Linked DNA regions of Homo sapiens: region 1 is linked to region 2. Evidence: fine-mapped expression QTL. A gene starts in region 2. The other region holds a variant in brackets. All regions are shown on one strand. Distances are from middle to middle. Region 1 has its middle 67 kb from the start of MARCHF10-DT. Region 2 holds the start of TANC2 (tetratricopeptide repeat, ankyrin repeat and coiled-coil containing 2).

The links. PIP is the estimated chance that this variant, and not a neighbour inherited with it, causes the effect.
Region 1: its variant is fine-mapped to the expression of TANC2 in monocytes after R848 (Quach 2016, PIP 0.92).

The regions. Positions count from the first base shown.
Region 1 is chr17:62,869,764-62,881,645 of GRCh38, forward strand. No RefSeq gene overlaps it. Among named protein-coding and RNA genes, the nearest start is that of MARCHF10-DT, 67 kb to the left of the region's middle. The variant T/C (reference allele first, on the strand shown) is at 6,385.
Region 2 is chr17:62,960,938-62,972,819 of GRCh38, forward strand. It overlaps TANC2 (tetratricopeptide repeat, ankyrin repeat and coiled-coil containing 2), which reads left to right and starts at 5,298. Exons shown (of 28, transcript NM_001394998.1): 1 at 5,298-5,812. RefSeq lists a silencer at 5,185-5,374.

The sequences.
Region 1 (11,882 bases), 91 kb before region 2:
CTTTATATTTGCCTCACATTTTTCACTCCTATTATCTGAAGTCTGTTTCTAATTTCTGACAGAATTGTAATGGCTTATTGTGTGCCTTGCTCTGCATGACATGCCAATTTCATTTTGGAGTCACGGCTATTGTCTTTTTCTCTGCTAATCTCTCTTGTTTTGCAAAACTCCAATAGAACGTGTGAACATAGAGAGTTGCCCTTGTGCCTGATCTTGGCTCTGTGTGGCCCCCAAACAGGGGTGGATGATAGACAGACAGCCTGTCTGCCACCCGAAGCATCTTTTCTTGCTTAAAAATTTGCTTTCCAGATTGCAGACTCCTTTCCAACTCCAGCAAAGCCTGGAACACATTAAATAAAAGCAGAGCTGAAATTGGATGGAATGTTTCAGCCACTTAGATTCAGACCTCTCTGGGGGAAGCCCATGGGGAAGGGACCGGGACATGCCCCCATGGATAACACAGGGGAAGAGGGCTTCTATGCTGTTCTCATACCATTCAAGCCTTAAACAGAGGCAACATATTTTTCTTAAGCAGGGCCTGTAACCCAGGATCCATCACTTATGTATGGTGTCCATGGCAACCAGGCAATGGTATGGGATCCCTTCTCACTGGGGAATTCCTTTTATGGCTCATTTCCGAAACCAGCATGGCCAGTACAGGAGTCTGCCGTTTCCCAGTTGCTTAGCAACCAGCTCCTATGCTCTAGTCACTAGAAAAAGCCGACAGTTTTTTTTTTTTAAGAAAGTGTTTGTCATCAGAATCATATGTTACATTCTCTCTACTTTGTCTCTTTAGAATAAAATAATTAGTGTGTGATAAGGATGCAGAAAGGGCAACTGCTCCCTGTTGTTAAAGCCTCTGCTGTTCCTGGCGGGCTGTTTTAGGCAAGGAGAGAGAGAGGAAAATGTTAGCATGCTTTCGGTTGGTAATTAAGCAGCTCGAGCCATCTGCACGTGGAAAGCTCTACATTTTTAACGTCTCGTGGGGGCATCAAGTAAGTACAGGGCCAGCAATCTGTGTGCTACATCCCTTCCCAAACCAGAAAATCCAGACTCCACCCACAGGTGTCATCTCTCCTCGGCTTCCATTCCTTAGGGGGTTGGGGAGGCCGGGATGGGGTGAATTGGCTTGTTGAGTTTTAGGTACAAGGGCACAAAGATCATGCAGCACCCCCTCTACTGTTACAGCAGTGGTTTTCAACTAGAGGTGATTTTGCCCCCCAGGTGACCTTTGGCAAGGCCTGCAGACATTTTTGGTTGTCACAACTGATGGGGAGGGGGATGTTACCAATATCTGTCTAGTGGGCAGAGACCCGGGGATGTTGCTAAACATCCTACAATGCAAAGTGTGGCCTCCAACAACAGAGAAGTGTCTTGCCCCTGATGTCAATATCCCAAAGTGGAGAAATCCCAAGTTAGAGAAATCAGAATATCTGTCTTGTTAAAAAAAAAAAAAAAAAAAAGCTAGCATGACAGCTGACGAGAAAAAATTTTCACAAGGTAAAGGGTGGGACAGATCAAAACCCATTCAACAGATATCATTCCAACCGAAATTTCTGTATAGCAAGGAACTCCTGGGCCCCCACCAGCAAAAGTGTTGGGCAGAGCACCCTTTGGAGTTGTGGCAATGGAAGGAATTTGTAAGCCGACCTTCCTAGAAGGAAGGAGAGCAGAGTTGGAATGCTCTGTCCTGGCTTCCAAGGGACTTTGGCATGAGACAGATCCAGCTTCACATTCTGGGTCTGCTGTCTATGCACTATGGGTTCTTAGGTATTTCACATAATCTCTCTGGGACTCGGTCTTCTCAACTCTAGAATGGGAATCTAAGTGAGTATTATGAGAATTACATGGCGGAACGTGTGAAATGCCTGACCCCTATTGGGCCCTGGATATTAGCTCCTCCCATTTCCCCTCTTGTTTCAGCCTCAGGAACCCAGCTGCCCCCTCTCCATTGCTGGGTACTTTGGACTTTTGAGGAATATGAACAAATGTACTGGTCCTATAAATGACTGAGGTCAGTTTATTCAGCAACGAGCAAAGGACAAAAGCACCATTTTTGGAATTTTGGCTGGTAGCCTTAGACTAAATTTAGGCATGAGGGACAGAAAAACCCAAGAAACGGGTGAGATGAGAGGCAGTATTGCATTGATCAAAAGTATGGCAGGCCAGGTGCGGTGGCTCATGCCTGTAATCGCAGCACTTTGGGAGGCAGAGGTATGTGGATCACCTGAGGTCAGGAGTTCGAGACCAGCCTGGCCAACATGGTGAAACCCCATCTGTACTAAAAATACAAAAATTAGCTGGGCGTGGTGGCAAACGCCTGTAATCCCAGCTACTCAGGAGGCTGAGGGAGGAGAATCACTTGAAACCGGGAGGTGGAGGTTGCAGTGAGCTGAGATTGTGCCACTGCACTCCAGCCTGGGTGACAGAGCAAGACTCTGTCTCAATAATAATGATGATAATAATAATAATAATAAAAAGAGAATGCACATGGCCGTGCCTGATGGCTCATGCCTGTTAAATGCGGCACTTTGGGAGGCCAAGGCAAGTGGATTGCCTGAGTCCAAGAGTTTGAGACCAGCCTGGGCAACGTGACGAAACCTCGACTCTACTGAAAATGCAAAAAATTAGCCAGGCGTGGTGGCACATGCCTGTAGTCCCAGTAACTCAGGAGGCTGAGGTGGGAGAATCACCTGAGCCTGGGAAGTCCAGGCTGCAATGAGCCGTGATCATGCCATTGCGCTCCAGCCTGGGCACAGGTTTCAAGTCCAGCTCCCCATTTACTGGCTGTGTGTGACCTCAAGCGAGTGACTTGGCTGAGCTTCACTTTCTCATCTATGAAATGGGGTTATTATTATATCGTCTAGTACTATGTAAAGATAAAAGATAATGTATATAAAAGTGCCTAGCCTGGTGCCTAATATTAGGTAGGCACCTGATAACTGATAGCATGCATATTCATATAAACAATCTTCCTTTTTTTTTTCTTTTGAGATAGAGTCACACTCTGTTGCCATGCTAGAGTGCAGTAGTGCAATCTCAGCTCACTGCAACCTCCACCTCCTGGGTTCAAACGATTCTCCTGCCTCAGCCTCCTGAGTAGCTGGGATTACAGGCGTTTGCCACCACGCCTGGCTAATTTTTTTTTTTTTTTGAGATGGAGTCTTGCTCTGTCACCCAGGCTGGAGTACAGTGGCATGATCTCTGCTCACTTCAACCTCTGCCTCCTGGGTTCAACCAGTTCTCCTGCCTCAGCCTCCTGAGTAGCTGGGGCTACAGGTGCCCGCCACACGCCTGGCTAGTTTTTCGTATTTTTAGTAGGGATGGGGTTTCACCATGTTAGCCAGGATGGTTTCAATCTCCTGACCTCATGATCCTCCCTCCTCACCCTCCCAAAGTGCTGGGATTACAGGCATGAGCCACCGTGCCCGGCCTTTTTTTTTTGTATTTTTAGTAGAGACGGGGTTTTACCATGTTGGCCAGGTTGGTCTCAAGCTCCTGACCTCAAGTGATCTGCCCACGTCGGCTTCCCAAAGTGCTGGGATTACAGGCGTGAGTCACTGCACCTGGCCTGCTTGTTTTTTTTTTAAGTAAAACTGTCGTGCGTCGTCCAACCCCACATCTTCACTGGTGCTGACAGTGAGGCTAAGGGCTGTGTATTAGGAAGAATGTCCTCCCTTATCCCATCTAAAACAGATTTCCCTCAGTATGATATGCTAGTGCCAGCCATCACAACGTTATGTAAGTAATTTTTGAAGCTATTTCTGTTTTTAGCCTATTCTACCTCTTGGGGGGTAATGAGTTCCATACATTTAGCAACCATTTTTAACTTGCTTGAAATCTTGAGAAAATCTCAAGAAACCTCTTCTTTAAAAAAATTGTTTAAATTGACAAATAGTAGTTGTTCGTATTCATGGGGTAGCTAGTGATGTTTTGATACACATGATGTATAATGATCAGATCAGGGTAATTAACATATTCATAATCTCAAACATTTATCATTTCTCTATGTTGGTAACATTCAGTATCCTCCCTCTCCCTATTTGAAACTGTATAATATATTATTGTTAACTATAGCCATCTTACAATGATGTAGAACAATAGAACTTACTCCTCCTACCTAGCTGTAATTTTGTATCCTTTATCAAATCTCTCCCTACCCCTCCCTTCCTCCTCCCCTTCCTGTCCTCTAGTATTCTCTGTTCTACTTTTTACTTCTGTGAGATCAACTTTTTTTTAGCTTCCACATATGAGTGAGACCATGCAGCGTCTTCATTCTAATAAGCTGGGGTTTGGTCTATTTTCACATTATCTGTACTTTTCATAATTCTTGAAACTGCAGTATATCCTGTCAACCTCCAGCCTTCACCCTGACCTCATACAGAAGCCCCTCCAGCCCCTTAATCACTTGAAATGCTTTGTGAACTCCCTGCTTTCTTTCTTGAAATGTATCAACCAGAACTGCACATTCCAGTCTGTGTTAGAAACAAAGGTTAGCCGGGCATGGTGGCAGGCACCTGTAGTCCCAGCTACTGGGGAGGCTGAGACAGGAGAATTGCTTGAACCCGGGAGGCGGAGGTTGCACTGAGCCGAGATTGTGCCACTGCACTCCAGCCTGGGCGACAGTGCAAGAGTCCGTCTCAAAAAAAAAAAAAAAAAGAAACAAAGGTAAAGTGATGTTTTCTTTCCCTACAACCCCCCCTACCTCACCCCCTTACTTTTTCTAACAATTTCCCAAACTTGGTTCGCCTTTGGGCGCCAGAGCACTTTCCTGAGCACTCTGCAATGAGTCCCAAGTCCCTTTCCTGGGTCACAATCGTTGGTTCATAGTGGCAGCAGCTCGTCCTCTATAGTTTGTACTTTTTCTCCTTGTCACTCTTATTTCCCACTGAAGTATATCTGCCAAAGTTGTGCCCACTCACCCAACCTCATTGCACCTCACCAGTTGGCTTCTGTCTGTATTTTTTTGTTTGTTTTTTGTTTTTCGTTTTTTTTTAGACAGAGTCTCACTCACTTGGTCGTCCAGGCTGAAGTGCAGTGGCACGATCTCGGCTCACTGCAACCTCTGCTTCCTGGGTTCAGGTGAGTCTCCTGACTCAGCCTCCCGAGTAGCTGTCATTACAGCTGTGCACCACCATGCCCAGCTAATTTCTGTATTTTTAATAGAGACGGGGTTTCACCATGTTGGCCAGGCTGGTCTCGAACTCCTGACCTCAAATGATCCACCTGCCTCGGGCCCCCAAAGTGCTGGGATTACAGGTGTGAGCCACTGCGCCTGGCCTCACAGTCGGCTTCTTGTTGAACAGACATCTAAAAGCCTAGAGATTACACTCCTAAATTGTTGTGTGATCCCACCCGATTTTACCCAGTTGACTGAAGCTCTTTGGAAGTGCGGCTCTAAATATGTCATTGCTAAAATTTTTTCCTTCCACAGGGGATAATTAAATCATGTCAAATATAGAAGCGACTTGCTCATCCCTCCCAAGCAGATTTATGGAAACTCACCTGGAAACCACCACAACCTGGAAAGGTGGCAGGAGGATGTTTATCAGGCACGTATGAGCCCAGCTTCTCAGAAGATAGACACAGGTGCCTTTGTCTCTGAACAAGTGGCAGGAGCTGGAGCCACAGTCACACTGGGGTTCTGAGTGGCTTGAGACGGGACATTGTGAGGTTTACCAGGAGGACCAAAAGCACTCAAAGTATGTGGAGGTCAGAGCAGTGGCAAAGAAGGAGTCCAGGCGGGCTGGGGAGGGGTCAAGGGGCATCAGGCAGCACGTCTGGGAGCCAGGATGACAGATGGGAGATTCAAAACAGGGCACCACTAGAAGCCTGAAAGGAAGGCAAGGTTTTATCAGGGTAGGAACTGAGCTCTGGAGAAAGAACAGGACAACTGGCCATGGCTGAAAAGGGGGCACAGGGTCAGCAAGTTGAAGACAGATCCTTATGATAATGAACCAGGGTGGAAACAGGAAAAGAGGGTTTGATGCTTTCTTTGGGGCAAACGATTCTCTCCCTATTCCTGCAACAATAGCGCAGGTTCCTAGATCAGTCATTTGGTCCATTAGCAGCTAATGCTGGTTGTGGGTATCACACCAGTAGATGGCCATCACCTTCATAAAGCTCCTGCACAATGCTCAGCTCGTGAGTGCTCCAAGGAAAACATTTCTGTGGTGACTGTGTTTGGGATTTTTGCAAACTACAGGTCCTTCTTGGGGATTCACAGTGTACATTAGCTCTGAATGTGTACAGCGTGCATTTTAAACACTCTGCCAACTCCTGAGGTATAGAAATCTGTTTCATTGTTTTTAATTTAATGTTTCTCAAATGTAGTTGACACCCGGGTCCAACAGGATCCTTTTGCTATATAACAACCCTGAACAT[T/C]CTGTGGACACACCTTGAGAAACATTGTTCTAGAACATTCCTAATCTGGTGTTCCCAGGCCCTTCACAGCCTGGGCCTGCCCTTGTTTCCCAACTTTTCCTTCCTTTATTTTCTGACATTCCAGCCACATTAAGCTCTTCCCTTGCACACGCTCCTGTTGCACATTTCCTTCTTTCTTGCTATAGCAGGTGATTCATCATCTGCCCAAAAATGGGAAAAAAGCTGAGCCCTGCTCACTTCACCTCACTGTCACCCTCATGTCTGTCTATCTTTTGAGACCCACCTCAAAAGGAGCCCTGGATTCATTCTCTGCCCCATCTCTGCTCCTGCCTTCCTGTTCCTATAAATAATCCTTTGCCGCCTCTGATCCCTTCTGTCCTGGTATCTGTTACTGTCAGGGCACTTCACATGTTTTACTTTGTATAAGGCCATTTATGCCTTTTTTATTCAAACAGAATCCACGTCTCACTTTTGTACCCACCCCCCTACCAACAGAACACAGCATATTTGTAGGATTGTTAGTGGGAGCAGAAAATATGATGCCAAAACTTCTGAGGTTGGGGTAAGTTCTCTTCTCAACATTCAGGCCAGAGTTGGCAAATACCTGGCTCACCTGCTGCCAACCTGTACTCTCTCACTAATGGCACAGACTCATCAGAGAAGGCCCCAGGAGCTTCTCAACACAGTGCTCCCAGCAGTCATGATCAATGGGTTAGAAAAGGCATGAGAGAGGAAATCTGTTATCCCTGATTTAGACCTTTTGCCAAAGTGAAAGTTAGGAGAATTTAGTAAGCTGAATGTGGGAGCTGTTAATGCTACAGACCAATGACTGTCCTCTAACAGAACAGAGCAATTAGCAAAAGTATTCATTATACTTTCATGTTCATGTCTAGTCTCAAGGCTAATTATTTGTATAATTAAGATGTTACCAAATGCAAACAATTGATGAGCCTGATTTCTTGGAATGAAACATGAGACTTATGAAATGTAAATAGCTGTGAATCACTAACAGCTTTCCTTTACTTAGGCATTCTACCAAGGCATAGCCCTGTTACATTAAAGAAACAATGGAAGTATAATCCCATTCATATTTTTTAGATGACAAAACAATATGACGTATGAATTTAAATCATAGAAAAAGCACAGGTTTTAATTCTCACTCCACCATTTTCTAGCTGTGTGCCCTTGGCTGTGTTACATAAGCTCAATTTACTCGTGTTACTTACAGAGAGATGTCAGTTTCCACATTCAGAAAATGGGTGTAATAGCCCCTAGTTCAGAGGACTGCTGTGACAATCAAATGAGTTAACATGTGGAAAGAGTGCACAATCAATGTGAGCCATTGTTTTCATTATTCTACTTGTATCTACAGATTATACTTTGACAATGATCGCTTGGATTTTTTACAGTATGTAAAAAACATTAGAGAGAAATGGAATGTATATAGATGTCTCGCTATAACACCATCTGTGTGTTACTGAAAAGCTTCCATGGTCTAAAAATGGCCACAAGCCCCAAAATAACAGGGTTGGTGGGGAAAAAAAAATAGGGTTGGGACAGTCTACTCAAAACCTGGCTGGGTGCAGTGGCTTACGCCTATAATCCCAGCACCTTGGGAGGGTGAGGCCAGAAGATTTCTTGGGCCCAGGAGTTCAAGACCAGCCTGGGCAACATCATGAGACCCTGTCTACACACACACACACACACACACACACACACACACACACACACACACAGACACACACACAATTAGCCAGGCATGGTGGCACACACTTGCAGTCCCAGCTACCCAGGAGGCTAAGGCAGGAAGATTGCTTGAGCCAGGGGAGGTTGAGGCTGCAGTGAGCTGTGATTACACTACTACGCTTCAGCCTGGATGACAGAGCAAGGCCCTGTCTCAAAAACAAAACAAAATGAAAAACAAAAACAACAACAAAAAAACTATGCAATTGTAACCAGAGCACTCACAAAAACAATGTCAAAACTAATGAAACATTACCCCAGTAAGCCTCAGCTTTCACAAACATTTGCACACCGCATCCCAGCCTTGAACCCTAGGGCTCCTCCTGCTGCTTTGAGATATAGGCCCTGGAGGGCATTTGCTTCTAATAGGGACCAGTTTTATCAAAATTAAACATTTGATTTAAAGAGCGGTGTTCTTCGCTAACCCATCCTTCTAATACAAAGAGAAACGTTTTCACTGCTTCTTCAACAGCACCCTCAGTTTTTCCAGAAACTTGACAAGAGAACAGCATAGTGGTTCCCAAGTCACTAAATCAGTCAGTCCCTGCAGCTAAAGAAGGCAGCTGTGTGTATTCTCAGCTTTTTCTTAAGGCCTCCATAGAGTGCTAAGGTTTCCTCTTATTAAAGAGGTAGTTATTGTGAGAAAGCTGGCTCCTGGCTTCAAAACATTTACATGCTGGGGGAAAAAAGTGCATAGGAACCCACATGACATCTGTGTTATACCAATTCCCCTGTTTACTCATGGCTTGTGAGGTCGCTCATATATAAGAAACATTTGTAGCAACAACAGTTTATATTGAATATCTCCAATCTGCTAGTTGATGTGGTAAGAACTAAATAGAAGCCATGTGATTTAATCTGCACATTAGTCGAGTGTGGTAGAGGTAAGGTATCCTTACCTTTGAGGCTTAGAGACATTAAATAACTTGCCTGAGATTACAAGTTTTTAAGTAGTAAAGCCAAAATTCCTACCTGGAATCTAACGTCAAACCTCATGCCTTTTGAGATCACACTATCCCTACTAAGGATGGCTGGAGGCAGGAAAGAAGACCGACATCCCTGGCCATGGTAATGAGTGAAAGCCTGATTCCTAACCACAAGTCACTAACATTTAATTGCATTTAATCCTCACAACAACCCTGCTACACAGTTATTATTACCACCAATTTATCGATGAGGAAACTGAAGCTCATTCATCAAAAGACAAGCCACCCAATTTTTAAAAATAGACTGAAGATTTGAAGGAAGAAACGTCCATTAGAAAACATGCAAATCAAAATCACAGTAAGATGGCACTTGACACCCACTAGACGGGTGGTGATTATAATAAAAAAGACATAATAACAAGTGTCGGTAGTTGGTGATGATGTGGAGAAATTGGAACCCTCGTACACTGCTGGTAGGAATGTAAAATGGTGCAGCCACTTTGGAAAACAATCTTTCAGTTCCTCAAACAACTAAACAGAGTTATCATATGATCCAGCAATTCTGCTCTAGATATATACACAGAGAAATGATAACATATCTACACACAAAAAGGTACATGAACATTAATAGCAGCATTATCCATAAAACCAAGTGGAAACCAAAATTTCCATCGACTGATGAATGGATAAATAAAATTATATCTGTTTAATTAAATATTTGGCAAGAAAGAAATTAAATGCTGATACATACTACAATCTGGATGAACCTTGGAAACTTTATGCTAAATGAAAGAAGCCAGCCACAAAGGACCACATATTGTACGATTCTATTTTTTGAAATGTCCAGAATGGGCAAGTATATAGAGACAGAAAATAGAATTGTGGTTGCTTAGGGGTGAGGATGATGAAGGGTTTGTGGGGCAATGGCTACGGAGTACAGGGTTTCTTTTGGAGTGATGAAAATGTTCCAACGTTGATTGTAATAATGGATATACAACTCTGTGAATATACCAAAAGCCTTCGAAGTGTACACTTTAAATGGGTGAATTGTGTGGTAATTGAATTATATCTCAATAAAGCTGTTTTTAAAAAAAAAATCTTTAAAAGATTTGAACAGGCACTTCCAAAAGGAAGCCATCCAGATGGCCATAAGGATATTTTTTTAAAGTGTTCAACATCATTAATTATCAGGGAAACACAAATTAGAACCACAGCAGGCTATCTCTACACAACTACTAGGATGGCTAAAATTACAAACACAAAATTTTGGCAAGGATATGGAGTGAAAGAGTTAAAAATATATTACCCTGGCATATTAACTATTTAAGCTAAAGGCACTTGAAAAATAGCAGATGCAAAAAAGAAAAAAAATCACTTTGACCTTCATGCTGTTTCTTAAAAGCAGAAGATGAAATTCCTGTGTGAAGATGCCCTCCCTATTCTAGGAGAAGAGGCAACAGCCTTATCTTCAAGGACAAGAAGTAGAGACCAAGAGAATTCTGTACAGACCTTGTCAAAATAACTCTTATCATTTAACCCTCCCCACATAATTTAGTTGCTTCTTCACAACTAACTATTGTCCAGTTCAGTAGATAAGTAACTGACTCTAACTTCTTCCTCAGGTCTTTGTTTCTTTCTGAGGACTCTTGTGCCACATAAAACTTTTATTATGCCTTTCTCCTCTTTATCCATCTTAAGTCAGTTTAATTCTCAGACCCAACAGGGACCCTAAGAGGATGGGGGTAGAGATTTTCTGCTCCTGCAGAAGCAACTGGAACTCTCATACATTGTTGATAGAAGTGTGAAATGGTACAACCACTTTGGAAAACAGTAGTAGTTTCTCATAAATTTGAACGTGCACCTGCCCTATGGCCTTAGTTTCCAATTCCACACCTAGGTATTTGCCCAACAGAAATGAAAGTGGATGTCCACAAAAGTCTTGCACAAGGATATTTATAGCAGCTTTATTCCTAATAGCCAAGAGCTGGAACCAGACTCTTAGTCTGTTTTATGCTGCTATAATAGAATACCTGAGACTGGGTAATTGATTATGAACAGAAATTTATTTGGCTCATGATTCTGGAGGCTGAGAAATCCCAGAGCATGGTGCCAGTATCTGACAAGGGCCTTTGTGCTCCATCATCCTATGGCAGAAGCAGAAGGGAAAGAGAGCAAGCGAGCAAGAGAGGGCTAAACTCACTTTTGTAGCAACCCACCCTTGTGATAACGAACCCACTGCTGAGATAATGGCATTAATCCATCATGTCCACCCTCTGCCCTCATGGCCTAATCACCTCTTAACAGTCCCACTTCTTAATACCATCACAATGGCAATTACATTTCAAAATGAATTTTGAAGGGGACATTCAAATCATAGCACAGTCCAATTATCCATCAATAGGAGAATGGATTTTTAATACTTTGGTATATTCACGCAATGGAAGAACACTGAACAATAAAATGGAACAAATTACTGATACATGCAAAATCACGGATGCATCTTTCACACATTCTGGGCACATAAGCCTGACACAAAAGACTATATATTATATGGCTCCATTTATGTGAAACTCTAAAACATGCACAAGTAATCTATGGTGCAAAAATGAGAAGGTAGTAATCTGAAAGGCAATAGGATGGACTGGGAAGAGACCTACTGGAACTTTCCAAGATGATGGAAGTGTTCTAAATCTCATAGATGTGTACATTTTTCAAAACTCATTGAATTGTGTAGTTAAGATTTGTGTATTTCACTGCATATAAATGTTACCTTATAAAAGAAACAATTTTGAAGGTTTGCTTTTCACAGTGGTACTGATCAGAAGTTCT
Region 2 (11,882 bases):
TGAGAATCTAATGGAACCAATGGATTCCCTCTTCAGAAAAAATAAATGCATTCATACTTAAACACATGTTGCACAATTTATAATGTACACCCCTGGAATTGGCTGCAAGAGAGCTCTTGATCCAAGCTGGGCCAATCAGAGCCCTTCCTGGAATTTTTGTACTCTATATCCAGAGAATCAAGTCAGTCTCTCCTTACTAGCTAAATCTGTGAATGCTGTTAGCTGATGTATTTTACAACACATGAGCCTGAGAAACAGAGAAAATGCTCAAATGTAGAATGAGAAGAGAGAGAGAGCCTAATACAAAAGGTCAGAAATGAGAGAGAGAACGTGTCCTAATGGCAGCTGAGTTCATGTCTTTATTAAGAAAGCAACTCATCTTTAAAAGAGATCCATTCTTTGACTTAAGAGGTTGTCGTATTCATTCCCTCCTCTGGACTTTCGTTGAGCTCTCAGGGCCCTTCCTTCCTTCTTTCCAACCATTTCTTTTTTCTATTCTGCTTTTCTCAAGAAGCAGTTCTATACCATCCCAGTCAAACTTGTATCCCTCCTTCTTGTAATTAATTACAGAACTTGCTGTTTTATTCATGTTCAGACTTAATTCTATAATATGCTATATTATATATTTAAATGTTTTAAGCATTCTGTTTCTCAAATAGATTATGACAGTTAAGTAGGCAAGACTTTCCTCAAATCAATTCTATATGCCCTATGGCACTTATCACAGCTATATACGAACAGTAGGTGCAAATACTTGTCAAACATTTATAAATGTCAATGTAAAAATATATGAGCATTTGTTTATTCACATTTTACATGCATTTTTCATTTTACAAAAAAGGGATTTACTAGAAACTTCTTTTAAGTAGTAGCTCCTCTATGTGGAAATGTTTTTAAGTGTTCATCTAGAAATATTAAATATTCATCAAAAGGCTGAGGTAGAGTTGGTGGGGAAAATGTTGAAGCTATTGGGTAAGTCATTAATTACAGATCAACAAGAAATGAGATTATGAAAAACAATCAATGACAAAAATCTCATTTACATCAACCTTTCAGAAATGCTTCCATTGTGTGACATGGCTCACTTTTTTTTTTTTTAGTGGGGGGTCTTACTCTGTTGCCCCAGCTGGAGTGCAGTGGTGCAATTATAGCTCACTGTGGCCTCGAACTCCTGGCCTCAAGTGATCCTCCTGTCTCAGTCTTCTGAGACTCTGGGATTACAGGCATGAGCAACTGGCAACCCACATTTAAAAAATATGTAATCTTTGTTCTCCTTTACACTTTATATGGCAATCTCCTCAGGGTAACTGATAGAGAATAAAGTTTATGTCTAGGTTCAGTTTTTGGCTCTACGCATCATTCAGTGTAAAATTGGGCTGGTTATTTAACCTCTCAGAACCCCCCTCATCCAAAAAATTAAGATAATACTTATCTGATAGGATGTTGTGGGAATTAAATGAGGTTGTGCATATAAAGTAGCTGGTGAAATATTTGCTGCCAGTAGGTGATCACTCAGTGGTGGGTGGTATGACTTTTTATTTAGGGAGAGAGAGTTGAGGGAAAAGGGTAGAAAAAGGTGAACCTGATGGTTTACTTAAGAGACATAGAGGGCTGGGCACAGTGGCTCATGCCTGTAATCCCAGCACTTTGGGAGGCTGAGGCAGGCGGATTGCTTGAGCCCAGGAGTTCGAGACCAGCCTGGGCAACATAGCGAGACTCCATCTCTATAACAATATAAAAAATTAGCTGGGCATGGTGACATGCACCTTTGGTCTCAGCTACTCAGGGGGCTGATGTGGAAAGGTCACCTGAGTCTGAGAAATAGAGGCTGCAGTGAGCCATGATGGTGCCACTGCACTCCAGCCTGAGTGATGAGGGTGAGACCCTGTGTCAAAAAAGAAGGAAAGAAAGAAAGGAAGGAAGAGAAGGAAAGAAAGAAAGAAAGAAAGAAAGAAAGAAAGAAAGAAAGAAAGAAAGAAAGAAAGAGAGACTTAGAGGTAGCCAGGGAAGACACCATATGCAGAGGTGGGTGATAGTGCAGAGTTGAAAGGGCAAGAAAGGGCATTTTGAATGATACAGATGATGCTAAAATGTTGGGAGGTATAGGGCAAGGATGGGCTACATTATGAACAATTATTTGCAGGTTCTTATTACACGGCATACGTTACATTTCCAAATTTAAGTTATAGACTAACATCTTTACTAGAATGGATTTTTAGTAGGTAATAAAATTAGTATTCTCAGGATTTCAGGTAATAGTGACAGAAAAGGGAATCAGGGAGAGGAGTTGAGAACAGAGGTGGCTTCTTGCTGCAATGTTGCTCTCTGTCCCTACTATACCCCACTCACAACTCTGTCAGGGACATATTGTTTCCTCCTCAAAGTTAGAGTGTGGCAACAAATTATAAGACTGGACAGTAGAACGACCTGGAAGAGAATTGGCAGAATAGAAGGATGGTGGATGATCAAAAGAGCGAAGCAGTGAGTTCATTCCTGGACACTGCCCACATGAAAATGGGATTTGGGAAAGGTTGGCTAAAAGAAGTGGTGACTGATCTTTGGAAGTATGGTGAGGACAGTGAGTCAGAGTTACTCACTTTATCAGCGCAGGGGACCATGTGGGTTACAGCTATCAGATCTTACTGTGGGTAAATCCAATAAAGAGCTCTGTTGCTAAAATTGAACAATTACAGTGTTTTTCTAATTTCCAGGAAAAATGGGTTTAAAGGTTTTCATTTTGTGAATTATTATTAATTTTTTGGTACTTCCTACCTTGTAAAAAAGTTGCAAATAAATTTAAAGAGAAAAACACAGACATATTATTTCTTAAAAACACATTATTTTTTGGCTGGACACAGTGGTTCACGCCTGTAATCCTGGCACTTTTGGAGGCCAAGTTGGGTGGATCACATGAGGTCAAGAGTTCGAGACCAGCCTGGTCAACATGGCAAAACCCCATCTGTACCTAAAATACAAAAATTAGCCAGGGGTGGTGGTGTGTGCTTGTAATCCCAGCTACTTGGGAAGGAGGCTGAGGCACAAAAATCGCTTGAACTCGGGAGGCGGAGGTTGCAGTGAGCCGAGATGGCACCACTGCACTCCAGCCTGGGTGACAGGTCGAGACTCTATCTCAAAAAAAAAGAACAACAACAACAACAAAAAGCCCCCATTTTTTTATTATGTGATTATGTGGAGATTTGCATAACCATAAAATTGCCAGATTTAGTGCTTGTAAAATTGTGTCAATTCCATATGGCAGAGTTAAATCTATCTGTATTTCATGATGCTCCACGTTGAGCACCATAATTTCTAGAGACTGCCACCTGAACTAGTTTGAAAACCAACATTACACCCCTGACTGCCTTTTGTTATTTCTCAGAGAAGGAATGTTATTAGCCTCAGTGGAACTCGCAGGGAAAGGCTTAGATAGAAAGTAATCTTAAAAAAAAAAAAAAAAAAGACCGAAGGAGAATTAAATAGGGTAAATTCAAGTGTAAGAAGGATAACATAATAGCTCCTGTTTCCTGAGTCCTTATTGTGTAACAGGATTTGTGCTAAGTATTTTCCAAAATTTTGTTTCATCTTTACATCCATCTGTGAGGTAAGTATTAATATCACCCACGTTAGACAGATGAAGAAAGGAAGGTCCGGAGACCTGTTCAAGGTCACACAGCAGGTAAGTGTTGGGTGACACTGAGATTCAAACTGAGGTTTTCCGACTGCAGTGATGATGACATTGTAATGCTTCTTTGTGTGTATGTGATTTTAAAAAACTGACATGAAGTGCACAGATCTTTTTGCATATGTATACACCCGGGTAACCATTAAGATATTGAATATTTCCAGCAAACCAGAAGGCTCTCTCCTGTCCCCTCTCAATCAATTCCCCTGTAAGTAATCACTACCTTGCCTCTAATACCATAGGTAGATGGGTTTTCATTAGATTAATCTAACTTTCTGGAGTTAACACCAAAAGATTCCATATGTCAGCCCTTCACCTTGCCATGTTAGCTGTATTATTCAAAGCTGCTCTAGCTCTGACTTTGCAAGCATTCACTGTAAAGAAGAGCTGTTGGATGGACATGTTCATATCCAGTTTCTTGTATTGTTCTGAAATTAATACTAATTTTTGAAAATCGAAGAAACTCCTGGATGAAGTGCTACAGGATGGGGCAGATTAAAGTGCTGTTATCAAACAAACCTCTCTACCTTGGAAGCGCCACAGACAGAGCTTCCTTGATTGATGTAATTTGGCGCATCTATTTCCAATCATGTCATCTGATTAAGAAGTTGGATGACCACGAAAGGTCATCTCAGTTTATGGAAGGGAAGGCGAGCCGGGCAGAGTTGGTAACGGTGATTGCTTCGCATCATCTTGCAGCACGCGATGATGTTTATGTCCCAAATACCTCCCACAGCCGACTTGCTGTTTTATGATAGGAGGGAAACAGTAGAGGGGAAGAAGATCTAGGTGGAGGGTGAAATATGACCTAACATCGTTCGACGAGGTATTAATGTGGTGGCTTTCCCGCCCTTGTCGACCAGCTCTTAAAACCACGCTACTTCTTAGTCAACCTGGCAGTGACAGAAGCAGCGCCACGACTTTACCTCAGGTTTGCAAGCTGTGGTTGGTGAATTTTCAGCCATTATTCTAAATAACAGTCTCGGTCTCCCCACAAACCCCACTGTTGTTTTGTTTTTCTTTCTCATTCTGATTCTCCCCACAGCCAACCGTGGCCTTTTGAAGTCGTCTACAAACTACCACTGAGAATCCGGGAAAGAATAACTGACACTTGTAGGCTTCGAGGACTCTCAGAGTGATATGTGCCTGAGGTGACCGAAGTGGGGGAGATCTAGGAGAGCATTCCGGTCATCAAAGCAGGAGGACAGGCCCTGAAATGGGCGCACGTGACAGCAGCAGCCACCTCGAGAGTGACATCACCCCTGAGGGCGGAGCCCAACTATGTAGGGCCTTGTCAGTTACCGAGCGTCCTCCCTGCTGCCCCTCCAAATGCCACCCACAAGTCCGAGCCCCCCGGGGATACGAGAAATGCCAGGACATCCCAGAGCGCCAGAGCCAGGGCCCCGTCTCTCCGCGCGGAGGAGGGCTGCGTCCCCACTCCCTCTTCCAGCCGTTCCCCACCCCCAAACTGTGGAAGGGGCGGGGGCGCGCGCGCTCCACCACGCACGCGCCCCCACGCACGCGCGCTCCCTCCGCGCTCGCGCCCCTCCCCACCCCAGCCCGGAGGGGGCGGGGCTGCGGGCGGCCTCAGAGGGTGCGACGCCCCCAGCGCGGCGGCGGCGCTAGCGAGCGGCCGGCGGGGCGCGGGTTGCTGGGCGCGCTGCTCCGGCGGGGCCCGCTGGCACAGCCGCCTCGCGCGAGCCGCCCGCCCGGCGGGGGAAGCTGCGAGCGCTCCGAGCGCCCGGCCTAGGGCCGCTGGCGCTGCCCTCCCGCCGCCACCGCCCTCCGCGCCTCCTTCGGGCGGCCCCGCCCCCATTCCCATCCCCCTCGCGCTCACCTCCCGGCTGTGCCGCGCGCTAGGCGGAGCGAGGCGCCCGCCGCCGCCGAGCCGAGCCGAGGGGCGAGAGCTGGCCCCCGAGCCGCCGCTGACAGGAGCACCGCCGCGGGCTGCGCTCGCCGGCTGCGAGGCCCCGCCGCGCCGTTCCGGGGTGCAGACTCGCCGCGGGGCGTTGGAGGACTGCGAGGTGCTCCGGGAATCGCGGGCGGCGCCGGCGGGCGGCGCGGTCCTCACAGGAGACCCCGGGGACTGGGGCTTGACCCGGAGGTGCAGAGAGCCCCTCAGAGCGGCAGGTAAGGGGCCCGGGGAGCAGGGCGAGGAAAGGTCGCTTCAGTGACAGGGTCGTTCGCCTCCACAGCCTCGGCTCCGGGGAGAGGGGCGGGGGCGAGCGGGGAGACGGCGAAATGGGCAGCGAAGTGCCTCGGTGTCCAAGGCGTGGGGAAGGCTGGCTCCGAATATGACACCAAGGCGGGCTTCAGAGGCGTGTGGGGTCGCCACTTGGCTGTCACCGAAGATGTCATGGAATTTGGTACCTAGAGCGTCTCTGGATGACGGGGACCAAGGATAAGATGCGAGGCGGATTGCTAAACGTGGCAGGGAATGTGGTGCAGAACGAGTTGCAAAATGTGCCCCCAGAATGCAGCATAAAAGTAGTTGCGAAATGTGCCAGGTAAGGCACAGGATGGGCTGGCCTCTGTGGCGTTGAAATTCATGGTCGAAGTGTTATTAGCGATATTAATAATTCCTCTGGGAAAGGAGGTGTAGCATAATAAAAGATTAATAAGGCTCATTGCTAGATATTTTGCCATAGGAAATCGGGAGGAGCTATGATAAGCTATTTTTTTTGAGGTAGAGAAAGTAACCACGTGAAAGAAAAAAAGCAAATTGTGTCTGGCTGTGAGATTGGAAAGAAAAAATAGGGCTAAAATAATTCCAGGTTTTGCCATCAGCGTGTAGAGCATTGGTACAATTGTATCCAGTCTTCATTTCCAGGTGTGGAATGTTTAGAATGGTCTTCACAAAACATAAACAATGATAATTAACATTAGGAAGAAGATTTGGTGTTTCGGGTGTCTTTCACTCTCTTCTCTGCTCCTCTCCAGGAAAAGAAACAAACAAAACCCCAAACGTCTTGACCATAATTATGAGTTAAAGATCATTAGGCAAAGGGAAGTATTTTTCGTATGTGCCCTTTTCCTGATTTTTACACAGGTGAAAATATCTGTAATGAGGAAAACAAAGCAGTGTGGTGAACAAAAGGGATAGATTTTCAGGCATTTTGAGGGGTTGGAGCCAGTATCTATCACAATGGTTAATTATAGAGAACGGCAGTACTAAAATATTCTTGTATGTTCTTGGTGTTGGGATGGTGAAATAAAAAAAAAAAAGAATACAGTAAATTGGCATAAAAAGCAACAACATGGATACTGTCAGTGGAGTGCTTCTTGCAGCATTTCCCAGGTAGATCCTCTTAGGGATGTGAGCACGAAATAAAACGTTAAACATTCTCTTTCTCCCTCTCTCTTGCTCCCCTCTGTATCTAGATATTTATTTATGTCTCTATATAGATATATGTGCATGTATATTATACATACATAAGAAATTACCAACATGCTGCAAAACATTGTGACTTCCATTTAAGAACATCTGTTTCGAGAGGATTGTCAGAACATAGCTGGAATTTCAGAAGTAACAAAAGACAACTCCATGATCTATTTAATGTAACTTATATGTATACATACAATGAGTGTGAATATACTATATAACAAAAGCAGAAATATGGAAATGTGTTCGTTAGAATGTACTTAATTATTGATGAGATTTTAATGTTTTATGTTATAATTCTTGTAAAGAAATTAAATTACATGTGTGAATGCTGTTCTCATTATAGTAATTTGCCAGATAATCTGAAAATTCATACTGATTGGCTTTCCCTTAGATCCAAATTCAGCCATTGAGGGATCATTTGCTTCAAAGACAAAAATAGATTTTCCTTGGTGATTGATTTTGGGTTTTAGTCTTTTCTGTAGATATGTCCCTTACCTTGAGAAGCTGTTGGGGCTGAAGAACAGAGGAAAGGGCCAGAGGAGAATAAAGAGAATTCTGTTGGGTCTTCCTGTTTTGTTCTGACTGTAAGCCATATGTACTGCCACCCCCTACTGTCTGTAGGAAGAGGTGTTACAGAGCCCGATTCTTTTCTTGTTATCACTGCCCCCTTGTGTAAGGGAAGAAATTGATAGTTGCGCTCGGGGAACCAGTCCTCTCAGATTGTTCTTGATAGAGTATTATGTAGATCTGTGAATCACCTATTTTCTTCAGAGTTGAAGGGCTTTAAACTTACTGTTAATCAGGCCTCAGATTTGGTGTCTATTTTAAATATAGGTAGCATTTGATGTTAGGAATTCAGATTGCTTAAGAATGTTTTTGGTACTTTCAGGAAGAGGGTGCAATACAATTACTACTACATTCTTCCCTTATTGTATGCAGGGGATTGGTTCCAGGACCCCCACATATGCCAAAATCCTTGCATGCTCAAATCCCGCAGTTGGTGTATGGAACCATGTATAGGGAAAAGTCGGCCCTCAATATACTCGGTTTTTGCATCCCATGAATACTGTATTGCTTGAAAAAAATCTGCATAGGAGTAGACCAGCACAGTTTAAGCCCATGTTGTTCAAGGGCCAGCTGTACTAGTAGTAACAGCTCACATTTATGTAGCACCTATTCTTTGCCAGTCCCGTTGTACGTTGTTTTAATCAGTTCCAACACCCTATGAGGTATGTGTTGTTATTTCTGTTTTACAGATGAGAATCTGAAACACAGAGAGGTTAAATAACTTGCCCAATACTATATAGCTGAGAAGTAGAAGAGCTAAGTTTCCATTTAGGAATGCTAGCTCCAGAACCTGTGCTCCTCATCAATATGCTATATTGCCCTCTCACTCAAGGTAGTATTGGCAAGGCATAATTAAAATGCATGTGCCCATCATAAAGCAAGTACAATAGATGTGGATAAACCTGGACAACTCACATAGATGTTAAGTCTGCATATATACAAAAGATACAGTTATTTGCAGTGTGAACATTTCTCTTTAGGAATTTGTTTTTTAACTTATTTCTGGGATTATGCGTAGAGGAGTATTAGTACTTTTTATGTGGTTAAGGAAATATTTGTGATGGTGGTTGGTTTGAAGGGAACTTCAGAGGTAAAAAGTTAATTTCAAGTAGTTTAATATAGTGTGTGTGTGTGTGTGTGTATATAAATACACATTCATACACACACACACAGCCTTTTTAAGAGCACCAGTAAACCTTTACTGCTTATTTTCTGTAGGGAAATTAAGGATAAATTACAATATTTTTCTTCCTACTCATATTTTTATGACCTCTTTTTCATTTATATTAAAAACTACCATAATTAGCACAAATGGATTAGATGCCTATGTACATTTTACCTCTAATGTCAACAAATGTTTGTTCAGATTTTTCTCACACTTAAACATTGTTTTATAAGATATTGACCACATATGACAAAGTATTTATAAAAATGTGTAAAATATAAAGACTTCACAATGCAGCCAACACTTACATGCCTTTTACCCAGTTTAAGAAATGGAACATCATCTTTCACAATTATAATAGTTATTTTCTTCTCTTAGCCAAATTGCTTCTGCCATTCTTTTTCAACAGAAACCTTTCCTTATTGTGCTGCGAATTGCATATCTCATGTAACCAAACACTTCCCTTTTTATATACATTTGTTGATATGGGAATTCAATATAATCTACTGCTTATGGCTAAAACTTATTCAGCATATATGCTTACGTAATTTAATATATTTAATAAATTGTCATACACTCAGACTATGCTTTGTATTTGTATTGGTTACTGGTTGGTAGTTCATTTTAGCATACTTCACTTGTAAAACTTAATTTGGTTTGCAAATTAGGATTTTACTAACATTGTTAAACATTAATAGATTATTTCCCTCTTCCATCATGAATTCTTGACTGTCCCACGCTAGCTCTGTTTTTTCTTCTTTTCCCCATAACTGCCTTTGCTCTTTATTTCTTAAGTGAGTATGAATTATTTTGAATGGAGAGGGAAGGAGACCCTAGAAAGGAGTATACTAATCCAGTCATTTCAAAGGGGACTATTAGGGTAGTTGGTACTGATTGAATATATGGTAGAACAAGTGTGCATAAAAGAAATGCATGAAAATCCTCTCCTTGTCATATTTCTTCCTTTTACAGTAGAATTAAAATGAGATCTGAGACACTCTGATTGGGCACACTAGCTGAATATTGTTGGATTGAACTTACCCAGAATCACCAATGTTAGCTGGGATATTTTTGCTGACAGTACAATATGCAGATTTTAATTCAGGGAGCTAGAACAAGCTGTTGCAGAGGGCTGTTTACTCTTCTAGTACTAGTCTAATCAAGGCACCAAATATTATAAAATAGTTTGGAAGCTAGTTCAATTATTTGGACTTTTTTTTTCTTTCTGAATGACTTGAGACTCAGCATTGTTATATTTGCTTAATGTGCCTGTAGTCATCAAATGCTGTGATTATTTTGAGGGAAAGGCACTCTGTAAATATACTATACAAATAAATAGTTTAGACTTCGTTGTAATACCGTGAGAATACCGCTTGGTTTCTTTGAATAGCGTCTTTTGTAGTAACTTGCATTAGATGAAGACCGTTTAAAATGAAAAAAAAAATGAGTTAAGGAGATGTGTGTATGGTGATGCAGAGTGTATATCCCTGATGAGTTTCTTGAAAAGGCCACGGAGAGAAATAGGTTAAAGAAGAGCTTAAAGACTAGAGCTGTGTTTTCCCACTCAGCAGTCTCCTGCTGCCCTTCGCTTTCCCTTTCTTTTCTCTTTTCAAGACAGGATCTCACTATGTCTCCCAGGGTAGGGTGCAGTGGTGTGATCTTAGCTTATTGCAGCCTACGTCTCCTGGGCTCAGGCGATCCTCTCACCTCAGCCTGCTGAGTAGCTGAGACTATAGGCACGTGCCACCATATCCAGCTAATTTTTGTACTTTTTGTAGAGACAGTGTTTCACTCTGTTGTCCAGGCTCATCTCAAACTCCTGGACTCAAGTGATCCACCTGCCTTGGCCTCCCAAAGTGCTGGGATTACAGGTGTGAGCCAACTGTGCCCAGCCAGTTTTCTTTCTTTTAGAGCAGGGGTCTCTAACCCCTGGACCATCATGGCCTGTTTGGAACCAGGGTGCACAGCAGGAGGTGAGTGGCTGGCCAGCCAGCATTACTGTGTGAGCACCTCCTCCTGTCAGATCAGCAGCTTCATTAGATTCTCATAGGAGCTTGAACCCTATTGTGAACTGCTCATGAGAGGGATCCGGGTTGTCCGTCCTTATGAGAATCTAATGCCTGATGATCTGAGGTGGAACAGTTTCATCCCCAAACCATCTCTGCCCCCCTACCCTCTGGAAAAATTGTCTGGAAAAACGTCCCTGTTGCCAAAAAGGTTGGGGACCGCTGTTTCAGAGGACATTTTACTTTGCGTATTTAAGATTCAAGGTAATATTAGATGGAGAACAGGAACTTTGGGTCTGAGTTTTAGAAGGCTAAAGCAGGTTACGCAATTAGTGAAAAAACTTTCTGGGACCTTTTTTTTTCTAGAAGGGTCAAAGTAACTATAATACCATAATTTTTTCTGGAAACAAATTTATTAGGTCAGTTTATTTTAAAAAATCTTTATAAATTATGTGAAAGCTGTGTTTGTGGATATGTCATATAAGTTGTTTTTTTGTTGTGGGCCACACATGACGTATCTTGTTATGTTCGGTCTCTTGTTTGCTCTTGAATAGTTAAAGGTAAGCATTACTAAATTTAAGAGTCAAAATAATTGTGTTAGTGTTCTATTATGCCTTTTCTTCCCCGTAATATCAATTTCTGTCTTTATTCACTACATGGTTTATAGTGCATCTTAAACTCCTTTCTTTGTTTATCAGAACTTAAGAGAGTCTCATGTCACTCATTTAAACTGAGTAGTTGCATTATAGAAATGATCTTGTTGGTGTGTTTTTTTAAAAATCCAATTGCTGAGGAAACACCTTTAGTGTTTTTGTCAACTTTGCCTACATTTCTTCCATTGCGTTGCTTCCAGAGTGATCTTTCTAGATAGTCATTTGATCATGTCACTTTTTTCTTCAGAATCTTTCACTGGCTCCTCATCACTGAATGGATAAAGTGGAAACTCCTTAGCAAACCGTTTAAGGTCCTTAATGATCTGGTCCCTGCCTCCTCTTTAGACTCATTGCCTGCCACTTCTGTCTTCAAAGTGCTTTAGCGGTAGTAAACTGTGTGTGGTTCCTTCAGTATGTAGTATTC